3 linked regions of the Homo sapiens genome follow. The protein of the gene in region 3 interacts with the protein of the main gene of each other region in a biochemical or structural test. Each region holds a gene or a part of one and is shown on either strand. Other genes may lie near its edges. The genes, in order: TBX5, KPNA4 and NKX2-5.

What was found.
Region 1: the proteins of NKX2-5 (region 3) and TBX5 form a complex in vitro, tested with the Homo sapiens proteins (one study listed by BioGRID and IntAct).
Region 2: the proteins of NKX2-5 (region 3) and KPNA4 interact in a test that uses a peptide from one of them, tested with the Homo sapiens proteins (one study listed by BioGRID).

The regions. Positions count from the first base shown.
Region 1 is NC_000012.12:114,400,689-114,410,803, forward strand, and holds the start of TBX5 (T-box transcription factor TBX5), read right to left. Parts: upstream 5,457-10,115; 5' UTR 4,940-5,456; intron 3,249-4,939; coding exon of another isoform or gene 3,211-3,248; coding exon 3,064-3,210; intron 1,233-3,063; coding exon 1,138-1,232; intron 1-1,137. UniProt on the Homo sapiens protein: DNA-binding protein that regulates the transcription of several genes and is involved in heart development and limb pattern formation. Binds to the core DNA motif of NPPA promoter.
Region 2 is NC_000003.12:160,562,772-160,566,749, reverse strand, and holds the start of KPNA4 (importin subunit alpha-3), read left to right. Parts: upstream 1-1,178; 5' UTR 1,179-1,467; coding exon 1,468-1,536; intron 1,537-3,978. UniProt on the Homo sapiens protein: Functions in nuclear protein import as an adapter protein for nuclear receptor KPNB1. Binds specifically and directly to substrates containing either a simple or bipartite NLS motif.
Region 3 is NC_000005.10:173,232,407-173,242,797, forward strand, and holds the start of NKX2-5 (homeobox protein Nkx-2.5), read right to left. Parts: upstream 2,801-10,391; 5' UTR 2,678-2,800; coding exon 2,344-2,677; intron 1,735-2,343; coding exon of another isoform or gene 1,640-1,734; exon of another isoform or gene 1,103-1,639; intron 1,096-1,102; coding exon of another isoform or gene 1,091-1,095; exon of another isoform or gene 1,059-1,090; coding exon of another isoform or gene 937-1,058; exon of another isoform or gene 804-936; coding exon 163-803; 3' UTR 1-162. UniProt on the Homo sapiens protein: Transcription factor required for the development of the heart and the spleen. During heart development, acts as a transcriptional activator of NPPA/ANF in cooperation with GATA4.

The sequences.
Region 1 (10,115 bases), on a different chromosome or scaffold from region 3:
GCTCAGGCTCGGGGGGAAAGAGGGACTCGGACGTGTCTTTCCTTCCTGGGGGAATAGGAAGAGGACTGCAGTTCGTTGATATAAACAGAACGCGCCTCCTAGTTCACTCAGGCCTTGGGCCGAGCGGGGAGCAGACTTTGTTTAATTTTAAATAATAATAAATGTCACTGTTGTCAGTTTATTGAGGGAGGCTTCGGCTGGAGAACGGGGGCGGGGGGCGTCTGGAAAGGCGGCTCCACCCTCCCCCTTCACACACTCGGTGGCTTGGGCCTACCGTTCGCCTGCTCCACACGCCTGCTCGGGGCATCCTCTGGCTTTTTGCTTTGCGGGACGCGGAAGACCCGTCCAGCACGGGTAGGGATGTGGCCAGGACGTCCCCAGGCCTGGGCGCGCGCGTGCACATGCTCACACACTCACACTGACATACAGAGCTGCACCACTCTCCTTCCTCCTCCCCCAGAAGTCTAGCATTTCTAGCTAAAACTCTGCGAGCTTTTAAGGGGAACTCCGGGGCGAGTGTCTTGGCGAAGCTGCCGTGTTTATTGGTGTCTGTATATAGAGCCCGGCCGAGCCCCGGTTCAGTTTTAAAGGCTTCGCCTGCTTTCTATAAACAATGAAAGAGGTAGCGAATACATCCAACGATTCAGAGTTTGACAATCGGGTGGGACCCTGGAGCCACTCCAAGGTCAGGGAGGGTGGGAATGAGGATTGGAGTAAAGATAAAGTCCAAGATCCCTGAAACCCAAAAACCTTCTAGACTCTGTCTTCTCTGGGTCTCTGTTTTCTGTTTTCTCCTTTCCCTCTTCTCTCTTTCCCTCATTACGAATCCAGATAGCACGGCCTCCCAAGCTCTTTATTCTTTCTATATGTGAGGTGGGAGAAATGCCCAGTTTCCGGGCTTGAACTTCTGGAGTATTTCCTCCATCCTAGGAGAGATCAATGGAGGAATCTCCTTGTGCCTCTTTAACCAGGATCTATCTTTCGCTCTCTCTCTCCTCTCCTCTCCTTTCTCTTCTTTCTCTATATTCCCTCTCCTTTTGCCCCTTTCCTTCCTTCTTCTCTTCCAAGCCACCTTTTCTTCTTCACCTCTCCCACAATTTCTCCTCGTCCCTCTCTCTACACAACAAACCATCTCACCTTCCAGCCTTGGTTATGATCATTTCCGTGCCCACTTCGTGGAATTTTAGCCACAGTTCTCTTTCATGGAGAAACACTTTGATTCCCTCCATGCCCTGCAAGAAGGAGAAAAAAGTCACACTAACAAGCCCTGGCAGTAGTGGGCATTCCTTCCCCAAACTCCCCCAAAACACAGAGACTGCTCCTCCTTCCCGCTGGAGCCTGTGGTCTCAGAGAGTAAAAAGTGGCTTCAGCCCACTGCAGAATTATCTGGAGCACCCAACAGCCTCTGCCCAGGGATCCCTATGTAGGCTGAATCCCTGAGGGTTGCAACAACCACTTGAACCCACAGTGCTGTATTGTCTGCTTCTAATGCCATCAGCACAAGGCTATGGAGTGATCACCCACCATCAGGGTGCTCCGGAATGTCACTGAGGAGGACCGGAATAAGAAAAAACCAACCAAACAAACAAACCAAAAAAAAAAAACCAGAGCCAATTTCAATCCACTTCACCTGAGATGGGTGGGGGGGATAGATAAAAAACCTAATTTAGAAAAACTAGGAACCTAATCTAGAAAACCACTCAGAATATTCTCATGTAGACACTCAGATGCCCACACATCAAACATACAGATGTGCAAATACTTGCTTATTCTCGACCATGGTGAGTGCAAACCTGAACATACATGAATTTTGAAACCTAAAAATGTTTGTATTATCATATATTCTTACAGTCCAGAAGGATAATTAATCCTAAATATCTATATTAACAAACCTTCCAGGCTCTCTCTACAAGTAGTTCCATTCACATCCAGCTATTTTGATTATAGGACACGCCTGATGCCATTTAACATTTTGGCTTTCAGCTAAAACTAAATTTACAGAACCGATGCAAATGTATATATATACATATATATACATATGTGCACACACACATACATGCACACACAAACTCTTCATTTTGGAATAATTTACAACAGTCTAAAAAGTGGGTTTGCTTTTCCTTAAAAGAAAAAAAAAAATCCCTAAGTTTCCTAAACTGTGTTCACGCTCTCTGCTTCTCTACAAATATACACACGTTTTCCTGAAACTTAAAGGCCAAAGAGAGAAGCCGGGAAAAGCCAGGAAGGGATCGAAATCCCAAGGCAGGATTTTAGCCATGTGTAAGTGTCTCTTCTGGTCGTCACCCCGTTTCACCCCATGTGACACCTTATTTAAAAATTACCAGGATCTACTGAGGGGCCGACTTGAGCGCCCAGTGCGTCCTGGGTTTTGGGCGCAGAGCGCAAGGTGAGGCTCCTCCCTCTGCCTGGGCCCAGGTTGTAGCCTGGCGAACCCGAGGCTCCTGGTGCCCTCCGGGCAGAGCTCTGTGCGCTCCCAGCGGCCGGTGATGGCGCGCCAGCCAGCCAGGCCCCGACCGCAAGACAAATGGTGCGGCGCGCGGGTCTAGTCGGCGGCGCGGAGGAGGCAGGAGGAGGCAGGAGGAGGCGGGAGGAGGCGAAGGCTACGGAAGATCAGAAGAGGGGTCAAGCCATCGCTCATGCCGGCCTGAATCGGCCGCTGACCTGGCCCTTATTAAGATGCTGGGGGCCGATTCTACACATAGTGCAGAGGGAAAGGAATTATCTAGGCCATTGTTAGCTGACCCCAAACGGCCGGATAATTGAGATTTCTCGAACAATTTAAATAGATTTCAAAAATCCTTTGGCCGTAAAGATAACCGTCACAATAAAGTAGATGGCAATACGCTAGCATTTGGGGAGACAGGGCAGAGAAAGGTGGAACTGAGTGGGAATAAAAAGGAAAAGGGATGATTATAGTCGTTGGGTTCGTTTTGGGGTTTTTTTATTTTGTTTTTGTTCTGTCCCCGCAAGAGAAGCCGAGCAGGAAAGCCAGACTCTGACTTTGATCTCTGCAAAGGGACCCGAAGCGCGAGGTCTCCTTACCTGCTGGGTGAAGGCGGCCTGCGGGGACGACGGGGACTTGCTGGGGGCCCCGAGCGCGCTCTCGGGTTTCGAATCGCAGGGCAGGTCTTTTGCGTCAGGCTCCAGAGGCGTGTGCGCCAGGCCAAAGCCCTCGTCTGCGTCGGCCATGGTGCGCCCAGGGCCCTGTGCCCGCGCAAGGTTCTGCTCTGAGGACAAGAAGCAGGGGGAGATGGGGGTGGGGAGGACAGAGAGAGAACGAGAGAAAGGTTGGAGAGCACAATTCTAGTGACAGGAGGGAGCAGTTTGGCCCCCAGTTTCCAGCTACCAGCACCTCCGTTCCCAGCCGAAGGTGACTGCAGAAGGCCCTAGAATTATTACTGTTACTAGTATTCCTAGTAGTATTACTATTACTTTATAAGCAGGCACAACTTCTTGCAAAAGACCCGCGTCAGACCCGGAGAAGGTGAGGCCCGCATCTCCCCTGCGCAGGCTCTCCGTGATAAGCAAGCTGCCCGTCAAATTTGTCTGGACTTCTGGAAGAGCCAATAAAGATAAGGCGTGGGTATTTTTGGAAGCCACTGGGTAGGAACCAAAAACAAAACAAAACAAAAACCCAGTGTCCTTTAGAGAATTTCTTTCTTCGCCAAATTACAAGATGCCGTCGAAACTCTTTTTATTAAACCTCACAAGAGGAATAGTTTTCTGCAGCAGGCAGAAATGTGTGAAATAACCCGCCTCTTGCAAAAAGAAAAACACAGAAGGGGAAGGTTGTGCAGATTGAGACTAGGTTCAAAAGAGAATTCATATACACCTTTTACCAGTTACAGGCCTTAACATTAAAAGTCCTTTAAAATTAAACATCCTTTTCTTTATCCCAACCTTAAGTAAGATTCGTTAAAAGATAAAAAGTAGCCAAACAGAAGACTAGATGAAGAAAGTCACCGTGCAGCCGTTCCGAGGAAGGCTCGTCACTGGGTGCCCGCCACCAGCGCTCTGATGCCGGGCGGGGGATGGCGGGCATTTTGTGGAGTGACCAGGCCGAAAGGGGTTTCTCTGAACTTCAGCCAGGCCTGGCCTGCTAAAACTGCAGGCTCAGGCTCAGGATTGGCGAGGACAAAATCATTCTCGGATAAGTCCTAGGCTGGAGACATTGAATCTGCAGCCCGGGTCCCCGCAATGCATAGAACGGCCCGGGTTTGCAGGCGTATGAGCTTAGAACACACAAAATAACTGCCGCAGAGCTGTTCAAGCCCGATGAGCCTGTCTCCTGCTCTCTGATCTCCTTCCAATCTCTTCTATACGCAAGTAGGAATTCCCCCTAGAACGGGAAGACTTTGGGAAGCGGGCACAAGCGATGGTCCCCCAAAACCTCAGCAGCTGCTTAAGCAAGCGGCCAGATCCCACCCTGACCTGCTGTGGCCAGAGATCTAGAAATGGGGCCGAGGAGAAGGACAGCTTCTGAGGCCTGACTTGCAAGCAGCTTTCTTCGCCTCGTTCTCGGGGCTTCAGGGAGGCGGCGACTGGAGCCCCGCTGCCTACTCACAACAAAAGAAAGCAGGGCTGGCGCCCCTACACGCGCTCCCATTCACTGCCGGCCGCGGGGAGAATCCTACCCCGCGCCCTCGCCAGGGTCCCGGGGAGCTCTGGGCTGGCGGAGGCGAACAAGATGCGGTTTGACAGAACCAGGCCGTGCTTCTGCAAACCTCAATGCCGCTCCGCCAGCCGCGGCGGCCTCCCAGACTCCATTTGCCGGGGAGCTCCGAGCCGCGCAAAATCTCTGCAAGCTGTGCTCTGCAGAATGCAAAGCCGGGCTGGAATCCGCCATTCCCGCCGCCCCAGCCGACTCGGCCGACGAGCTCCCTCCTGAGCCTCCCGGGCCATCTGCCGGGACGGTTACCTCGTTCGGTGAAGCCGGTGCATTCACCACATCCTCTGCTGCTCCTAGCAGGGAAGCCGGCGGTGAGGCGGGGGAGCAGGCATGGTGGCTCCGGGGTTTATGCGGGGTTTACTGCTTACCCAGAATAGCGGCTACTGCTGCCTACTAGGGCGCACCTACCGCTGGAGCCTCCGCGGCGACTGCCCACCTCCAACACACACCTCCTCTGCTGTGCGCTTGCTCTCCCTAAATACTTCCCAGTTGGCAAGCGCCAAAGAACACAAAATAGCCTCCAAGAGCACCGGCAACCATATAATCTCAGTGCCCCGCTCCTCCTTTACACCCCCAGGGAGGGAAAGTTGGAAGCCCAGTGAATGGTCGAAGTCCTTTCTGAGCGCAGCTTTCAGGATTAAAGTTCCCGGATTCGAGGTAAGAGTCAGTCTCTCTCACTCTCTCTCCCTCTCTCTCTCTCTCTGAAATACAAGCCAACTCAGCTGAGCACAGTGACGTTGGGTTGCCTCGATGCTCACAAAGTACTGAAATCGCCTATCCAACTAGCTCCCACTGCACTCTGTCGCCCTCCCCCTTCTCTCTCCCTCCCACCCTCCCGTCCTCCCTTCCCCCCACCCCAAATTTCCACTAGATTTCCCGAACACTCAAATCACAATACGACTCTCAACACAGACCTGCAATAACTCCCTCCTCTCTACCCCTTTCCCAACCTCCATCCATCTCTGCTTCTCTGAGCAAGCGGTGGCTGCAAAAACTCCTGCACAAATCATTTCAAACGCGGTCGGCTTCTAATCGGGAAGTAATCTCAGTGACGCTGGCGGTGCAGAGAACCGAGTCTGGACGCACACACACAAACACACCGCGGGCCTCCGCAGCCTTGCAGACATTCTCTCCAACGCTGACCTCGAGAAGGAGAGCTGCCTGACCCCGCCTGGCCGGCGCTCGCCTTCCTGACATCTCCCCTCCACCCCCTACTCATCACCCCTACTCTCAACGACTCTGGGGTGAAGGCAGGGTGAAGGTGCATTGGGATGGGGGCCGAGATCAAAGATGCTAAGAAATCGCTGCGGGCCCTCACCCCCCACCCAGTGGGGCCACCAGACGTCCCCTGCTCCAGGTGTACACAAGGCAGTGCCCAGTTTTATTAAAATAATCAAACAGTCACTGGGGACTGGCTAGGGTTTTCATCTCCACTGGTCTCCTCTCCTTGCCCTTTCCCTCTCTGAGATGTATTTTTTTTTTTTAGGGTGAGTTGAAGAGGTCAATAAAAGCACAAACACAGTCAGTAGGTCTCAGTCTGAGCAGACCCAGATTGGGACACCGAATATTGGTGCTTGGAGTAAATGTCAGGAGTCCTGTTCTGTTTCCCATCCTTACCTCCTGTACCCCCATCATACTGATTTTTCTAGGGTTCTGATAAGAGACTTGGGCCTGCAAGTCAAGGTCTGGAGAAAGGGATGGAGGGAGGAGAAATGCCCCGAGGTCAGCAGCTGTGTAACCCTCTGTGACTGCTCTGCTAAAATCCCAGGCCAGGCCATTGCTGCAAAATGCCAAAGTGGAGAATCTCCAACCCTGAATGTGGGGCAACCGGGGAGAAAGCCAGCCCTCCTTTGCTATGGTGCTCACTCCACCTTCCAGGTTTGTTTGCAAACAGATATTTTCCCTTTGCCCAGGCGATGTATTTATTTGTGAAAACACCCTCACCCTCCAAGTCAGCTTGGAGGCCTTTAGGCTTGCTGGCAAGGCGACCCTAGGCCGAAGACACGAAAAACAAACATGGCATCGGAAGAAGGCTGAACCGCTACATCTCCAGTAGAGGGAAAGGGAAATCCAGAAAGACCTTCCCAATCCCTTTAAGTTCTCAGAGATTTGGGGATAAAATTAATTCCCATAAATAATCTTCAGGCCCCTCCAGAGAGGAAAAATCTGGACTCTCCCAGGTAATAGCCCAGCCAGATTTGCTTAGCTCATTGAGCACAGATGGTCTGGGCCACCAAGCAAAATAGGGATTTTCAAACCTTTCGAGAGAATCCATTCTTGCCAGGTGACACACGAAGCCATTCTTATTTCGTTCATGAGAAGTAGCAGCACAGCAAGAGAAGATTCAGCAAGACTAAGACGGGGTGAAAAGCCAAGGAGGGCCAAGTGCAAAGAGAAACCTATTTCCCCCCTCAGTCCTCCAGGGTGAAACTCACCTCCAACTATCCCACCTCTTCTTTGGAGCGCAAAAGCCAGGAGTGCGCCTCGCTGGAGAGCAGGGCTCAGGTGAAGACTTTGAAAAGGACCACCAAAAGAGACCTCTTTAGGCCAGGTCTTCTTCCAACGTCTGTCAAGAAGAGCACGTACCTCCCAGCTCAAGGTTGGTTTGTGGTCTCCGACAAATTAAATATTACTGTTTATTACCAGGCATACCCCAGTAAAATAAAGAGGCAACCAGGCGATAGCGACTATCTCACCAGCCGCTGCACCTATAGGACTTGGAGACGTCACGAGTCACGCAACCGGCCCGCGCGCTGTCACGTTTGGCTGGGGGGCAGCGGCGGGAGGTAAATTTCTCTCCGTCTTCGCCTATCAGTGCCGGGTCTGCGCAGCCACAGGTTCCGGACGTCTTGGCCCCGGGAATAAATAAAGACATAAACCAACCCGGCTTTCTCCGGAGGAATGAGGGTGATGAACATAAGACACAAATAGAGCCAAGATCGACTTTCTTAGGAAGGGGGAGAGGAGGGAACTCTTCACGAAGGGAGGTGGGAGTCCACCTCAGACCTCTATTGGAAGGAAATCGAGTTGTTCCGGGGGACTGAGGTCTCTTGCATAAGGCATGGGATCCTTATTATTATTATTATTATTTTTAAATCCCCCGCGGAGGAGCTCTGGGCAAATGAATACCGAGGCGCCGCTCTAGCTGGTTAGGCTTGGGATGCGATAACTCAGTGCCCTCTTGCAGACTTGCATAGAAATAATTACTGGGTTGTCGTGGAGGGGACACGAGACAGAGGGAGTTCTCCGTAATGTGCCTTGCGGAGAGAAAGGTCCAAGAATGCAATTCGTCCCAGAGTGGCCCGGCAGGGGCGGGGTGCGAGTGGGTGGTGGAGTAGGGGTGGGAGTGGAGAGAGGTGGTTTCTGTAGAGAATAATTATTGTACCAGGGCCCGCCGAGGCACGAGGCACTCTATTTTGTTTTGTAATCACGACGACTATTATTTTTAGTCTGATCAATGGGCACAATTTCTAAGCAGCGCAGTGGTGGATGCTCGCAAACTTTTGCGCACCGCTGGAAACCCACTAGGTTGAGTTGCAAAACGTACCGCGTAGACGCCCCTGGTGGCGCCGAGAGAAGAGCTAGGCCTGCCCAGCACAGAGCCGGAGAGCGTCGGGCCTTCCGGAAGGGTAAGTTCTCCGCCAAGGGGTCCCGAGGGAGCTGGACGTCTGAATCTGGACTTGCCCCCAGCTTCGGGGTTCGATTCTGGGTTTTGCGCGTCCCCAACCCCCAGGGCTTTCCGAAGCATGGCCTGGCTCCAGGCCCGGTCCTGTAAGGACTGGAACGGCAGCAAAATGTGCAGGGAGGCAGTCGGCCGGCAGAGCTGCGGCGGGAGCCAAGGTCAGGCCCGCGGGGAGAGCGGGCAGCTTCCAGCGCCGGCCACAAGCTCCCAGGCCAGCTGGGCCGCAGACCCCTTTGCTTCCAGAGAGCACAACCCGCGTCCTTTCTCTCAGCCAGGCTGCAGTGGCTGCCCCGAGCTTCGCTTTCGTTTCCCAAGCTGTTAATAACGATATGTCCCCAAATCCGAGGCTCGTGTTTGCTCCCAGATGCCAAGAACGCAACCCGAAATCCTTCTCCCAAACCCTAGGTCGACGAGATGAGTTCCTACTTGACCTCTGAGCCGAGGTGGGCCGGAAACCGAGGCCTAGGCCCCGCCGGGGCTGCAAGGAAAAGGGGAAACTCCGAGCGTAGCGTCTTTTCCTTGTGGTTCCTTTCTCCGGCATCCCGGACTGCGGGCCCTGCAGCCACCTGGACCGGCATTCAAAGGATTCTGCAAGTCCAGCTTCACAGACTGGCTTTCCCAGACGCTCCGAAGCCCGCACCACGAACAGAATAAAGGAGAGACGAGAGATCGCAACTAGATTTGAGAATCCTCGTTCTTTTCCCCAATCGTTCGGGCAGTAAACTCCGGAGCCGGCTACAGCGCGCATCCTCCCTTCCTCCTTTCGGAGAACTGTCGCTTTCCCGAAGCTGCTCCCAGCTGGGTTTTCTCCCGAAGTTTATTTTTCTCATTTTGCAAAATTCCTGCCCTGATTTTAATACTGCAACAGGACAGCAGAGGTTCCTCTTTAAAAAGTCAAAACCCAAACCAAAGGGGCCCATTGCTGTTGATAATTTTTTTCTTCACCTTCTCCTTCCGTTTTTAAGAAAGACACTTCCAAAACTACCCATTGTTTTCCTCTCAAAAGAGAACTCGCTTTAAAATGCATCCCTTTCTATTTCTCTCCGGATATGTCCCCACCTGACCCGGTGGCAACTTGTGGGGCGTGGGGGTAGTGAAAAATAGAAGTGTGGACGGGGCTGGGAAAATGAATAAGAATTATAACAATAGAAATGATGACAAAACTAAACTTTGACCAATTCAATTTGCAAAAGAAAGGGTTGGTCTGAGGGTGAGACATTCCCTGGTTTCTCAAGGGGGTCACTTTCCCTCTCACCGAGTTAAATCTGGCTCTGTTATATTTTTTCCAGGAACACAGTATGTCTCTTCCCAATGTTTTATTCGGTTTCTGGTTTCCCCACTTTTGACCGGAAGTATGTGGGAAGAATACTGGCTGTTATTATTATGATTATTGAGTGTCCAATACTCTCCTCCAATATTTCCACCAAGAATTATTATCGCTGCTCTCCTCATTCATGTTAGTGTTGCTTTGTGTGCTTTAGATGACAATCGTCCTCTTTACTCTCCAAGTTTGGAGGGTGAGGGTTTTTTGTTGTGGTGGTGGTGGTTGGGTTCTTCTTTGTTTTTGTTTTTTTGTTTTTCCTGTTCGGGGTAATGAAATGAGAACTGGAAGAGAGGATATCATTTCGAGGCCCAGCTGAGAAGGATCCCAATGCGAAAAATTTACACACTTCAAAGAGCAGAAAGGTGGAAGCGAGTGGTGCTTGGACACAAGGATGCCACTGTTCTTATCTCCTCCAATTT
Region 2 (3,978 bases), on a different chromosome or scaffold from region 3:
AAAATTCCCCTCTGTTGCCTTTAAAAGTGTTTCCTTAGGAAGATCTGCATTTTAAACACTTATCTGCACGTTGTTCTACTAAAAAAATATACTAGAAAGGACCGAGAGTCAACGATTCTGAAGGAGTTTGTATCAGGGTCTCTTCTCCCTACCTCGTCAAGTTTAAACACACCCAACGCCTCGATTCCTTGCTTCCGACCCGAGTTGCTGCTTTACATATCCCTGTACATTTGAGGTGTTATTCGTTGATATTTCAATATATTTTAAAATAATTTTCCATTTCTGTTTTGTTAAATTTTTGAATACGTTCTTTTGTATCTCGTGTCATTTCTGCCTCTGGTAACGTTGTCCTTGGTATCCTTGGAACTCATTTCCTTTCTCAACACACAATATTCCCTGTCAGCTGCCACGGGCCCCGCCCTCCAGAAGTTCATACTTTGTGGTCAAGCAGCTTCTTTAACTTTTTAAGACGAATTACCTAGGAAGTGCTATTGTCCCAGGATCACCAGCTCTGCCTAAATTCCTAACTGTTGCGGGTGCTTAGTCACAGAAGATGAATCAGATTCGTCTAATGGGCCCTTTCCTTTTCCACCCACCTTTCCTGTCGCTTTCCGCTGAGCCTCCTCAACTCACGTCATCCCAGCAGGTCCTGGCCCCCAGACCCGGCCCTGGACGGCACGGAGCCCCAGCCCGGGAACGCAGCTGCGAGCGTCCGACCGGGAGACAGCGAAGCTCAGATCTCTCTGCAAAGCGAACGGAGAGCGCAAGGAATGCCCAGGAAGACAGGGCGCGCCCGGGGAGAAAAGAACGTTACTTTAACGCAGCCTCGACCCTGAACCCCCGGCATCTAGGGCTTCCTGGACGAGTGGAGCAAAACAACTCGCCCTGCTGCGTTCCCGGGCCTCTCCTTCCCCTTGCTGGTTTCCCCTTAAGTCTACTTCTCTATTGCTTCCAACCCCTCTCTCCGAAGGCACGTGGTCCTTCCCCGCCTGCCCCCGCCGCACCCCTCCGGGCCCGGAGCCGGCTCCTCCCAGCGTCGTTCGCTTCCCCTTTCCGTTCGCTCTTTCCGCCCCGGCTCTCCATCGCCCCTTCTGATTGGTCGAACGCACCGGAGCCTGGTTAGCCAATGGGCGAGCCGGGCTGGAGGCGATGGGCGTGGCCGCAGCGCCGGGGCCCTCAGATCGAGGCTGCCTCCCCCTCTCAGCCGGCAGCACATTCCGTCGCCTTGCCGCCGCCCGGCCCCACAGTTGTCTTTGCCGGAGCTGCAGTCGCGCTGGGGTTAGGGCGGGGGGGCGGGCGGGGAGAGGAGAAGGCCGCGGCGGAGGCAGGTGAGAGGAGGAAGGAAGCGGCGGCGCGGCGGGCACAGCAGCTCAGGCGGCGGCCCGGTTCCTGGGAGTGTCGGTGCGGCGCGTTGGTTGGGGCGGATCCCGCGGGGCCCGGGCGGGGGAAGGAGTCACCGGCCCGGCCATGGCGGACAACGAGAAACTGGACAACCAACGGCTCAAGAATTTCAAGAACAAAGGCCGCGACTTGGAGGTAAACTCGGGGACGACGCCGGAGGGGTGGGGGCTGTGGGCCTGGGGCCGGTCTCCGCCGGGACCCCGAGTGTGGGGATTAGGGGCGGGAGCCGCCTCCAGGCCTCGGGGAATGGCGCTAGGGGCCGGCCCGTCTGTGACGCCTCTGCTAGCGCGCCGGGAAGTTTATGTCGGGCCTGCTCCGCCTCCGCCGGGGAGCGAGGTGCCCGGGTACGGCCGGCGCGGCCTAGGCCTGCCCGGCGGAGCCGGCCCGGCGCGGGTGCGAGGGGCCGGGCCGCGCGGCGGGGAGGCCGGGCGCGGCGCGTGCGGAGGAGGCGTGCGTGTGCGGCCGGTGCTGCCCCGGCCGGGCCGCGGCCCCTTCCCCGGCAGTGGCGGAGATTCCGGCTCTCGCTCGGGCACCGACGTCTGGCGCCGCGGGAAGGAGGGCGGTGGGAATGGGAGGGTGAGCGTGTGGCGACCGAGTGGGGCTCTGAACTTCCTCAGCGAGGCCCGAGGCGTCTCCACTTAAAGGCATTTTTTCTGGTCTTCCCGACTCCCGCTTTACCCCTGCCTCCCCCCAATATCCAAACTACAGGACAACTTCTCCGTTGAAAAAAACACCCCCGGCGTGAGAGGCCATCCTGGTGATCCTAACAGTGCCTTCCAGCGGCCTGTGTTTTACTCTGGATATAGCTGATTCAAGATGTGGCTCACGGTGTGCCCTCTTCCAGGCAAAGGATACCCCTTATTTCAGCTTGTCCACAAATCTCTTTACCCCCTCCTGAGAGGAGACCACCAGCTGCATTCTTACATATAAAGTCTAAAGGGTTATACAAAGCTGTCATCCTCTAGTCTACAGTATCCTTTCCCTCCACCTGCTGGTGGTGGTAGTGGGGGATGGGGTGGGCTAGGGAATGGCACCATCACGTTTGATTATTTAAAAAGGAAAAAAAAAGCTTCATTGTCTTAGATACAGCTGCTCCCGAGATTGTCTACATAAGGTGTATGGGTTAAATACACACATGCACACACGCATACCCACACACCCCACTGAGATTTTTGATAGAAGACTTCTTCCCTTCAGCTTTTAAGAGTTTAGATAAATAGATTTAATACTTCCCTTCTGCATCTTAATCACGAGTTTAGCTTTTAGGGAAAGTGGTCAAGCAGTATTTTTTATGTTGTTCTCGGTACGTTTTCATAATGAAATCTTCAACTTCCCATGGCATTTCTGAACTTGAGAGTCTGCTTGACTGAGATATTTTTTGGGCTTTTTACAAAGCTGTTAATATTATCTTTAAAGTAGTTCAAGCGTTTTAGTGGGTTTCATAATTTGAGGGACGACTAAGTGTCCAGGGATGTTAATTCTGTGGTTCTTTTAAGGTTAACATATTACCATTGTGATCCCTTTTTTTAATGCAAAGATGTCACATCTTTATTGAGATAATTTGCATGCCATAAAAATGAGCTTCTTAAATAACAATGATTTTTCAGTAAATTTACTTGTTTATGAAAGAATGTGGTGAAAATGTTTTTTACTAATATGAATACTTAGAATGAGAAAAAATCACAAATGATAAAACTTAAAAACTGGTAAGTACCACAAAATTACAGAATCCAGAAAAATAGCAATTAGGTGCTTGACAGATCCCTATAACCCTTTTTTCCTCTACATTTCTGGCTTCATTTTTCTGGCAGCTTCATTGAGATGTAATTCGCATGCCATACAATTCACCCACTTAAAGTGGCTTTTAGTGTATTCGCAGTTTTGCAACCATCACCACAGTCCATCTTAGAACATTTTCACGGCCCCAAAAAGAAACCTGTACTCATTAACAGTCACTCTCCAATTCCCAACTACCCCAGCCCCAGGCAACCAGTTTTTGTCTTCTTAGATTTGCCTATCCTGGACATCCCATATAAATGGAATTGTACAATTTGTGCTCTTTTTTAACTGGCTTCTTTCACATAGTGTAATGTTTTCAAGGTTTATCCGTGTTGTAACAAGAATGTATCAATGTTTCATGGCCGAATGATCCTTATGGCCGAATGATCCAATGATCCTCCAGCTCATGGATATACCACATTTTATTTATCCCTTCTTCAGTTAATGAACATTTTCATTGTTTCCACTTTTTTAGCTATTTTACATAATACTACTAAGAACATTTTTGTGTGGATGTATGTTTTATTTCTCTTGGCTATATACCTAGGAATAGAATTGCTAGATCATATGGAAACTTACTTTGAACCTTTGGTGGAATTGCCAGACTTTCTGAAGTTATCCTTATTTTTTAAATTGATGTTTCCTCCTACCTCATATCTTTTGGCACTTTAGTCAAAATCAGATTAAGTCCTGAGGCTGTATTAGAAGAATATTGTGATGTGTGACTTTTAAAAAATAAGTATATATTGACATTAGCCAGGTTTTTTTGTTTTGTTTTGTTTAGAAATTCATAGTGCC
Region 3 (10,391 bases):
CAAGAACAAACGCGCGTGGGACAGAAAAAGTTCCTAGGTCTCCGCAGGAGTGAATGCAAAATCCAGGGGACTCAGGGTCATGTTGGGAGCCCCTTCTCCCCCCGAGAGTCAGGGAGCTGTTGAGGTGGGATCGGTCAGGGTCGCGCCACGCGGGTCCCTTCCCTACCAGGCTCGGATACCATGCAGCGTGGACACTCCCGAGTTGCTCTGCGGAATCCCGGGGCTCTGAACCGCATTCAAGTCCCCGACGCCGAAGTTCACGAAGTTGTTGTTGGCGGCGGCAGTGGCCGGCTGCGCTGGGGAAGGCCCGGCGGGGTAAGCGGCAGTGCAGCTGTAGCCAGGGCTGCAGGCCGCGCCGCCGTAACCCGGATAGGCGGGGTAGGCGTTATAACCGTAGGGATTGAGGCCCACGCCGTAGGCAGGCGCGTAGGGCGCCGAGTCCCCTAGGCATGGCTTGCCATCGCGCACCAGCACTGGCACCGCGATCCTGCGGGCAGGCGGCGGCGGCGGCGGGGGCAGCCCCACCAGCTCCAGAGTCTGGTCCTGCCGCTGCCGCTTGCACTTGTAGCGCCGGTTCTGGAACCAGATCTTGACCTGCGTGGACGTGAGTTTCAGCACGCTGGCCAGCTGGTCGCGTTCGGGGGCCGACAGGTACCGCTGCTGCTTGAAGCGCCGCTCCAGCTCATAGACCTGCGCCTGCGAGAAGAGCACGCGCGGCTTCCTCCGCCGTCGCGCCCGGGGCCGCTCCGCGTTGTCCGCCTCTGTCTTCTCCAGCTCCACCGCCTTCTGCAGCGCGCACAGCTCTGAGGGGGAACAGAGAGGCAGAGAGACGCTTGGTAAGAGCGGCTTGACCTACGGAGCGCGGCCGCACAGTAATGGTAAGGGATCCTCGTGGAGGCCACTGTGTCCTGCCTGGAGCGCCCAGCTGGCTGCGGCTCACTCTGCCAAGTGCACTGGGAGCCACCGACACGTCTCACTCAGCATTTGTAGAAAGTCAGGCTGGCTCAAGGCGCTGGAGAACAAAACGGGAGGTCTCTGCCCTCGGGGCAGTTCACACCCTGGTGAGGGAGACAGACGGTGACTTAAAATTTCAGGCTGCAAAAAAAAAAAAAATAAATAAAAAAATAAAAAAATAAAAATAAAACCAGGTGATGCTCTGGGGTGAACTGAATTAGGGCTAGTTTGGTTTGAGAAGTTAAATGAACAGAGGCCGAGGCCTCACTGCTAGGGACGGTCTTATCTCAAAATTAAGGAATCAAGAAACAGAAGGCCAGGGAGTGTTGGTTTGGTGATCGGAGGCTCCAGCCTGGCCGCAGCAGGGTTTGCGCAGTGTCCAAGAAGCTGCGGGTGGGCAGGCGGCCTCGGAACCTGCCTTGCTGGCTTCCTCGAATTGGTAGCGATCAGTTCTAGCCGCCGTGCCCGCCCGAATTTGTTCCCAGGCCTCTGCTCCTCAACAAACCTATGAATTCTCTCCCGGCTGGCAGCGGCCCTTCGCCCAGCGCTTCGCCCAGCGCCTGCGGCCTCCCGGGAATCGCCCGGGCTCCTGCCTTGGGCTGGGGGGTCTCCCAGAAGGCCCCTTTCTGCAGCGGGGCCGGCCTCCCTCCCCGATCCTGGGATGGCCTGCGGGATGATCCCGCACTCATCTCGTCCACTCCCTTGTGCCCGCGGTAGCGCAGCATTTCCTAACTTTTCCACGAGGGAACCTCTCCGCCCTGGCCGCGCCGGCAAGTTGTGCTGAAAAAATAAAGTGAAGTCAGATTCCTGAGGGTCCGCAGTATCCCATTTTAAAATCAAGGCCCTCGATCCCAGACTCCACTTTCCTGGCGCAAAGAAAGAAAGGCACCAGAAACCCGGGTCGTGGGTGGGCTGCAGAAAGAAGGTCCAGGACCCTCCTCCGATTGTACGCAAAAGCTGTCTGGTGAGCAACATTTCAATTTCTGTTTAGCGGTTCTCATCAGATCTTTAAAAAGATTCGTAAATCCAAAGGAGATTTAAAAACAGAGATTATCTGCTTGTCTCTCTGTTCTGTCTACCATAAACCGATTTCTCAACTTCCTACCAGACCCAGGAGCAGAGCCGAAGCCGCCCGGGGCTTTGTTAGGCCGGGGGGAAACGTTTTTTGGTCTCTTGCTTCTGATCCTTTCAATCCGGCATTTCCTCTGAACCTCCGATTGGACGCGGGGCGCGGGAGCCTGGCGACAACACCAGGCATCTTACATTCTGAACCCCCCGCCGCAGCCCAGCCCTCGGCCCAAGGGCGCGTGTCTCCTCCTCCTGGCCCTGAGTTTCTTGGGGACGAAAGCGACCCAGGAGGGGAGAAGGGGGCCTGTGTTTCCTCCTCACCTTTCTTTTCGGCTCTAGGGTCCTTGGCTGGGTCGGGGTCGCTGTAGGCACGTGGATAGAAGGCGGGGGCGGCGGGAAAGGCAGACGCACACTTGGCCGGTGAAGGCGCGCGGCCCAGCTCTGCGCGCAGCTCTGGGAGGCCCGGCGCAGCCGCCTCGGGCCCAGCGTAGGCCTCTGGCTTGAAGGCGGCCAGCATGCAGGAGGAGGGCGCCAGGGTCGCCTCCAGGCGGGCAGAGAGCTCTCCGGCGGCAGCCAGGCTGCGCTGCTGCTGTTCCAGGTTTAGGATGTCTTTGACTGAGAAGGGCGTGGGCGTGAGAGCAGGGCTGGGGAACATGGTGGCAGCGCCAGTCTCACAGCGCCAGGTGGGCGGCAGAAAGCGGCGCTGCCCACGGCCCCTGGCAGCTTCCCTGCATGGTGCCGCCGCCCGCCCGCGCACCCGTCGGCCAGCTCTGGATGTGTCCGGGCAGCAGGTAGCGCTGAGCACAAGGGGCAGGAGAGGCGGGACCAGGCCAGAGGAGGGGGACTCAGCCTGCCATTGGGCCAGGGGCCTCGATGACAGGAGCGATGAGCAGTTTCGTGTCACCTAATATAGTCATACGGCAAAAAAAAAAAAAAAAAAAAAAAAAAAAAAAAAAAAAAAAAGCCCTGCCCAGCTTTTTTAAAGGGGCCACGACGCATTTGGAAGGGTCTCCTTTTGCTCCTGCAGCCTGCGTTTGCTCCCTAATGTGAGCCTGAAAAGCCTACCAGAGGCATGCAGAGTCAGGCCTCTGGGCAGGGCTGGATGGGTGTGGGTTTGAAGAAATATTCCTCAGCACCCAAACCAGCATGGGAGAGAGAAGGATGGGGTGGGAAGCGGTGGGGAGGAGAGTGATTTGAGGAAGGCTTTATTACTGAAGGTGGTGGGATGAGGGAGAGTCTGAATAGGAAGAGAAGCCTGGAGGACAGGGCTGGCTTTGGGGATAGCAGCAGGGCGAGATTCTGGACAATTCGGGGGTTTGGTTTGGCTTGGCCTACAGGGTCAGTCATGCCGCAGGCTCTGGGTGCTTCTGGGCGAGTCAACGAAAGTAAGGGCAAGGTGAGTGATGGCCAGGTGGGGTAGGAGTTGCTGCCTCCTACAGTAGTGTTATGCACAGCACAACTCCAGGGGGCATCAGTCACTGCCAGTACCCTCCCAGGGAAATGCCTCTCCCCTTAATAATGAAATAAATCAGGAATCCCAGCTGGTAAGCTCAGCTTCCCAGGAGACACCTGTCTTGTGGAGTGCCCCAGCTACCAGCCACCTTGTTTCCCCTGTTTGGAGGCCATCGATCCCACCTCCCTCCTTCCCGTGCCCTCCCTGCCTGGCAGCAAGGCCCTCAGGCTTCTGCCAACCTCGAGGTTTCAGGGTCCTAGCCCAGGTTTAGCTCTCAGGGAGGCGGGGCTCCTCTGAGCCCAGCTAGGCCAGGATTTCTCTGAGGCCTCTGGGCCGGACTTCCAGTGGGGCACCCCTGCGGCTCGGTCAGGCGCGTGGGGGAAGGGCAGGGCAAGTGGGGTGATCATGATCATTTTTAGCCCAGGGTCAGTAGAGTAGGGCACAGAAGTCAGACAAATCTGCCAGAGTTTCAGGAGCGCCAGCTACATGGCCAGATCCTGCCCGGGTGGCCTCATTTCTCTGGGTCCCCGCACTCCTTGGGAGGTCTGATGAAAGCTTGGGGTCTTCTCCATTCCCCAGAACACTGCAGAGAGGAGTTTTATTTTGCTTACAATTCAGGAGTCCGGGCAGGCAGAGCGGGCCCAGGTTAAGGACGCCTTCTAGAGCTGGGGATGACAGGATTTGTCAGTGGAAAAGCGTTGGCTTCTCACGGCCCTAGCTGGTACAGGGAACCGCGGGCGGGAAGCTGGGCGGGACGCGTGGACTTGCTGAGAATGGGGATGTGGAGGGCTTGGCTCTTTGCGGAGTGCGGGTTGGCAAGAGGCGCTTGGAGTAGAATAAAGGCGGCGCAGGGCCAAAAACTACCTAAAGACACAGCTCCCGCAGGCGCGCCCAAGGTGCGGAGGAAACGCTCCATGTATGGGGACAAAATAGTGTCTGTCCAGAACGTACATCTTGGGTGCTCAAACCCGACAGTGTGCCGTCTGAGACGCCGACGCAAGTGAAGTCAAGCATTGGCCTGATGTTGGGACTTTTCCTGTCCCTCATCAAAGCCACACTCCCAGGACCTGGGGCCTCCATGCTGGGGAGAGAGGTGAGCCCCGCAGGGCAGCCCAGGAGGCGCGCAACGCCCTGACCCCGGCTTCTAGGCGCCAGCCGTCAGTAACAGGCCTGGGCTGCCACGCCGAAATCACGCCTCGAGTTTCTGAGCCAGGGACTACTGGGGGTCTGGAATTGTTAGTCTAGTCTGTGGAGGATGCCTTTTCTTAAATGTGGGGCGTTCAAGGCCCAGGAAACCTCGTCCCCCCACCTCTTCACCTCCCAACCCAAATTCTCCTTGGACGGAGCTGCATGTCAGCGGCCTTGCGGCCCTTCCTCGCCTGGACTTTTGGCCACGTTACCGTTATGGCTGTAAATTAACCTAGCTTGGGGGCCCGCCTTGCCTTTGAAGATTGTTTTCGAGCGCGGGCGGGGGGGGGTGTCGTTGGAGAGGATGCCTATCGCCGAGGCGGTGACGTCTGGCAAACGAGCCACATCCGATTCAATTAAATGTCTCGCTGAAAAGAGCTCGGAACGAGGGTCCTGGGAGCGCTGTTAAGTGAATCTGCTGGCCAGGCGGCTCGCGATGACAGTTTGAAAGATTAGTGTGAGCGGACGCCTGAAATATTACCGTTTAATGGGGGACATCGAGGCTACATCCGGGATCCCTGTTTTTAGTAAGGTTTTTTTTTTTTTTTTTTTGAGAGCTCTGGAGAAAGAAAAAAATTAGCATTGCCCTTGCAAATCAAGGTGGCAAGGATTTATTTCCTATTTTCGGGTAAGGGGGCTTCCTAGAACTGTCAGTCCTGTGGGTCAGGTGTTACAAAAAGGGAAGGAAAAAAAACTCTCCCTATTTGAACAAGATCAGTGACTGTTACACTCTCTATGCTCTTTGTGAATCGGGTAATGATTTCTCTTGGCTTCCAAAAAGGTCTTGGTGTTGCAGGAGAGAGGAGATGGGGCAAAAACGGACAAATACGTGCAAAATAGAAATTGGGGCGACCCATGCTGGTCTCCTTAGAGGAAAGTCCGAGAGCCATTTGCAGCTTTTCTTTCCAGTCCTCACTGTTTCCGAGTGAGTTAAAAAAAAATCCCTCTAAATAGATCTAAATAGAAATTGCAATAGTTGGGGGTTGGGTGGGAGGAAACTTGATTCTCTGGCCCCCAACAGGGACACATCTTTTTTTCCCAAGGGCCGCTGACCCAACCTGGCCGCCTCTCTGCGCCGCACTTTGACCAAACTAGCAGGACAAACAAACAGCCTTCAGCCTAGAGAAAGGCAGAGAGAGACAAAAGGAGAGAGAAGAGATCGAAAATCTATCTGTGTATTTCCTTGACTTTTAAAGAGTTGGTGCTTTAAGATAATCCAAATTCCAGGGTGGCTCGAGCGCATTCTCCGTGAATAAATTATTATTAATTGAAAAGCGATCGGCGCAGCCGGAGCCGGCCCCCCTTTCGTGCAATCAGCAGGGCTGGTCGCAAAAGGTATATATGATTAATTGAAAGATAAGCTGGAACTATCACCGGGAATGTCATTAATGCGCTGGGGAGACGTCCATTGGAGACAGGCGGCGTTATCCGCGGCTTTATCTTCAACAACGCCTCGCTCTCGGCCCGCGCGGGGGAAACAGATGGGAGTTTCTGTCTGGGACGCTCGCCCCATGTTTATATTTTGGGAAGAATCGCAACTCGTGGGAGTCCCCGGCTGGCCCCCTGATAAATGAACATTAGCACTTTTTCGGACTACTGTATCAACAAAGGGGCTGCGGCGCTGCAATAATTGGCGAGAAAGCAAACAGAGGGCCGAGAGCGCGACTCTGCTCTTCGTCCGGCTGATGGATGAGCAGCTCCGGCTGCGCGCCGGACTCCCGGCCTCGGCCTCCGCCTCCGCCTCCGCCTCCGCCTCCGCGCTGGGCCCCTCCGCCGCCCGGCTTCCTTCCTGGCCGGGAGTTGGGGGCGGGGGGCGACTCTGAGGGCCGCCGACCTCGCCCTTGGCTCCGGAAGAGTCCAGGCGGCCTCCGCGGCACCGGATTTTTCCTGCCTCGGGACTCGCCTCATTCAGGTGGCTCAGCTGGCACCAAATCCTTCTCATTTCCACGCTTGTTCAGTGCCCACGGGGTGTGCCAGGCGCTCTCACGGATCTCGTCACGGATCCTCTTATTCCGACTGCAGGCCTGAGGAGAATGAGGTTCAGAGACGTGGAGTAAGTTGCTCAGGGTCACACAGATGGGAAAGGACAGTGTCAGGGTGTTAGGATTCGAACACACAGCTGACTGCACAGCTGAGACTGTTTTCTTTTATTACACGTCGCTGCGCCCAAGACCGTACCAACTGGAGGAAGAGCAAGACCCCCACCATCACCCCCCACCCCGCAGCCAGGGGAGAGGACCAGGCTGTTGGATTTGAGATGCCAGGTCTCCCCAACCTTCATAGACAAGGGAGATTTCCTGCATAAAGTTCATTTGAGAAAGAGAGGGGGAGAGAGGAATTTAACATGCGTTCATTTCACTTCCGCCTTCCCCTCCCCTCGCTCTCCCACTTTTCCTTTCCCTTCTCCCTTCCCTCTCCTATTTTGATAACAGCTTTATCGAGATATAATTCGCATACCATACAATCCACCCATTTAAAGTATACAGTTCAGTGATTTTTAGTATGTCCACAGAGTTGTGAAACCAACACCACAATTTTAGAACATTTTTATCACCCCAAAAACAAACTTGTGGTCTTTAGCCATCAACTCCAATCCCCTCTCCTACCTTCCCAGCCCTAGGCAACTGCTAATCTATTTTCTGCCCCTATAGATTTGCCTGTTCTGGACATTTCATACAAATGGAATCATACAATATGTGGCTGTTTGTGTCTCGCAGCGTTCACTTAACATAATGTTTTCAAAGTTCGTCCATGCTGTAGCACGTATCAGCATCTTGTTCCTTTTAATGGCTGAACAATATTCCATTGTATGTCTATGCCACACTTCGTCCATTCATCACTTGGTAAACATTTGGGTTATTTCCACATTTTGTCTATTATGAATACCCCTCCAGCCCACTTCTACCTTACAGTCTGAAGCTTTAGAGTCCTTGAAAGGGCCCTTCCCCCTCCTCCATAATTAACCCTATCCTTCATGGGCATGGCATCTGTGCAGTCTCACAGGGCCTGAGCTTGGTTTAATGTTCCGCTGTTGCTGTCTTAAAACTCTTCATAAGTTTTTAAGCAGAGTCTCCACATTTCTATTTTGCGCTGAGCCCACAAACTATGTAGTCAATCCTGCTTTCTGGGCTGTCTGAGCAGAGCACTGGAAATACTAACTCTCTATTGCCTAGCTGGGTTTTGGCTTCCTTCCCTCACCCCCCACCCCTCCCCAGCCCCCTGCTAGCCAGCTAGGACAGACAGAAAGTCTCCAAGCTGCTTTAAGAGCTGTCCATGGAAACTTGCTCAGCCATAGGAAGGGCCTAGAGCCCACAGAAGGAAAGAGCAGATCCACATGGCTAGTGGATACTGTGCGTATGTGTGTGTGTGTGTGTGTGTGTGTGGCTGTGAGGGGAGAGGCTAAAAGAGTGGACCGTAGCTTTCACCCAGCTGCCAAGTGACTCCACAGCTTGGTCACTGTTGGATTCTTGGCCTGATTTTCTCCATCCCTTCACCTACATTGAGTGGGTGCCCACTATGTACCAGGTGCTGGGGTTGCACAGCCCAAGATGCACAGACCCTGAAAAAGGCAGGCGTGTGTCAGAAAGAGCGCTGGCCTCTGAGCCCGCGGTGGGTGTGGTCCTGCCTTTTCAGCAGTTGGCTCATCTTGAGCATGTCTCTTTTCCTGTCTGGTCCCCAGTTTTGTGTCTGTCTCCTTGGTGGTATGAGGTGTACACAGCGTTCCTTTCCAGCGACACTATCCTGGGAGACATCCCAGGTTGTTACCTGAACTCACCTGGACAGTGGGCAGAGGTAGACAGGCACGTGGGTAGTTGTCTAACCAACAAAGTAAAACTGGTTAAGATGAGAAGTCCCCGCCAATTGCAATATTATGCTATTTGGGGTGGGGGGAGGGATGGTCTATATGACAATATGCTTTCAAAATAAAATGATGTTAACGTAAGGAAAATGTGATGGATTTTTCTTATACCAAATACATTCAATTTCAGATAGATCAAACATTTGGACGTTAAAAATGAAACACAAAAGTGCTACAGATAATTAAAATAATAATTTTGGAGTGCTTTTATATTTGAGAGGGGGATTAAGAGAACAAAAGACCTAGAAACTATAAAAGATGAATTATATAAACCTGATTGCATAAAAATAAATCTGTGCACAGCAAAAATACCATTAATAGAATCCAACAGAAAACTGTACTCAGGAAAAATGCTAGAAATACATGACAAAGTACTGATTTCCACAATTTGGAAAGAATACCTGTAAATCAATAAGAAAATGATCCAGCAAAAATATTTGAAAAATGACCAAGAGTATCAGAGCCTTGCTGGAAAAAATAAAAAGAAATAAAGAAATGCAAATTGAAACACAGAGAGGCAAATGTTTTTACTTATCAGACTGACGAAGATCAAAAAGTGTAATAGTTGCCTCGTCATGCTTCTACATTGTAAACTGGTAAACCTCTTTGGAGCAATGTGGTACTGCCAAAATTAAAAATGAATAAGCTCTTTGAACAAATATTTTCATTTCTAGGATTCCATTCTATAGGTATATACATATATGCAAAGAAAAGTATTTTCATCACCGTTTTTAATTTTTTTAAGAATCAAAACATGTTAAAAAAACCAGTGTATATATACCTGAGGACTGGTTAAAAAATTATGTTGTACCAATAGAACAGAATACCATATGCCATGAGAAAGAATTAGTTCCATTCATATGTATTCTTATGGATATGTTTTGAGATACTTTAAATAGCAAACCAGGTGCAGAATTTGTATTTTAAATATGGGCATATGTACACATATGGTTCACATGTGGGGTTTTTTGGTGATGAAAACTTCAGGGGAAGAATAATTGGGGGGCAAGTCAAGAATAAACATGACAGTTTCCGTAATACACTTTTTGGAACAGGTTCCTTGTTACTTTTGGGGCTGTAGAAATATCTAGGCCAGAATCCTCTGAGGTACATATTAAAAATGCAGATTTCTGGGGCCCATCCTAATCTTGGAGTTTAAGAATCAAAGGTGTGTGTATGGTTTGAGACAGGCAGCCGAAGCAGCGGTGCAGTGAACTCTCTGTGAAGGGGTGGCAGCGGAGCCCGTGGTGTAGGAAGACTGTGCAGGGTGGTCAGCGGAGCCCTAGAGAGAGGGGAGGAAGGGTGGCCTTTGTCTAGTAGTACCTGGGAACAGGACCCTGGTGGCACTGGCTGCCCTCAAGATCTCTCCTGACTTGTGGTTTGGTCTTGGGGTCTTGGACAGTATGAGTCAAGGGAGGGGGCAGGTATAGACAAACTAGAGGGCAGGCCCAAGTCTTGTGGTCACTGAGGATGCAGAGCCTGGTCCCTGTGAGAAGGTGGCAAAGTGGGAAGATGGAACTGGCTTGTGGCCTTGGTAGCCCCACCCGGGCGCTCCCCGCAGGCCAGCAGAGGAGTTTAGCAGTTCCTAGATTTCCTGACCCCTGGCCTTCAGCCCACTGTCCTTCCCTCTCCTGAGAGTCAGCCTCTAAAAATCTCTCTGAAATAGCCCTGCATCTGAACCAGATCTGGAATCTGACCTAACAAGGTTGAAGTGACTTTCCTGTCTGGGGCCGGGGTAGGGGTGTAAATGGAAATATTTCATACCTAGTTTCTCCAAACACGGTGGGGACTCTTGTAGCCACTGATCCTGGCAGCTCCCTGAAGTGTGGGGTCTGCCCAACGGTGGCACAGCCTGGAGCCTCTCAGGCC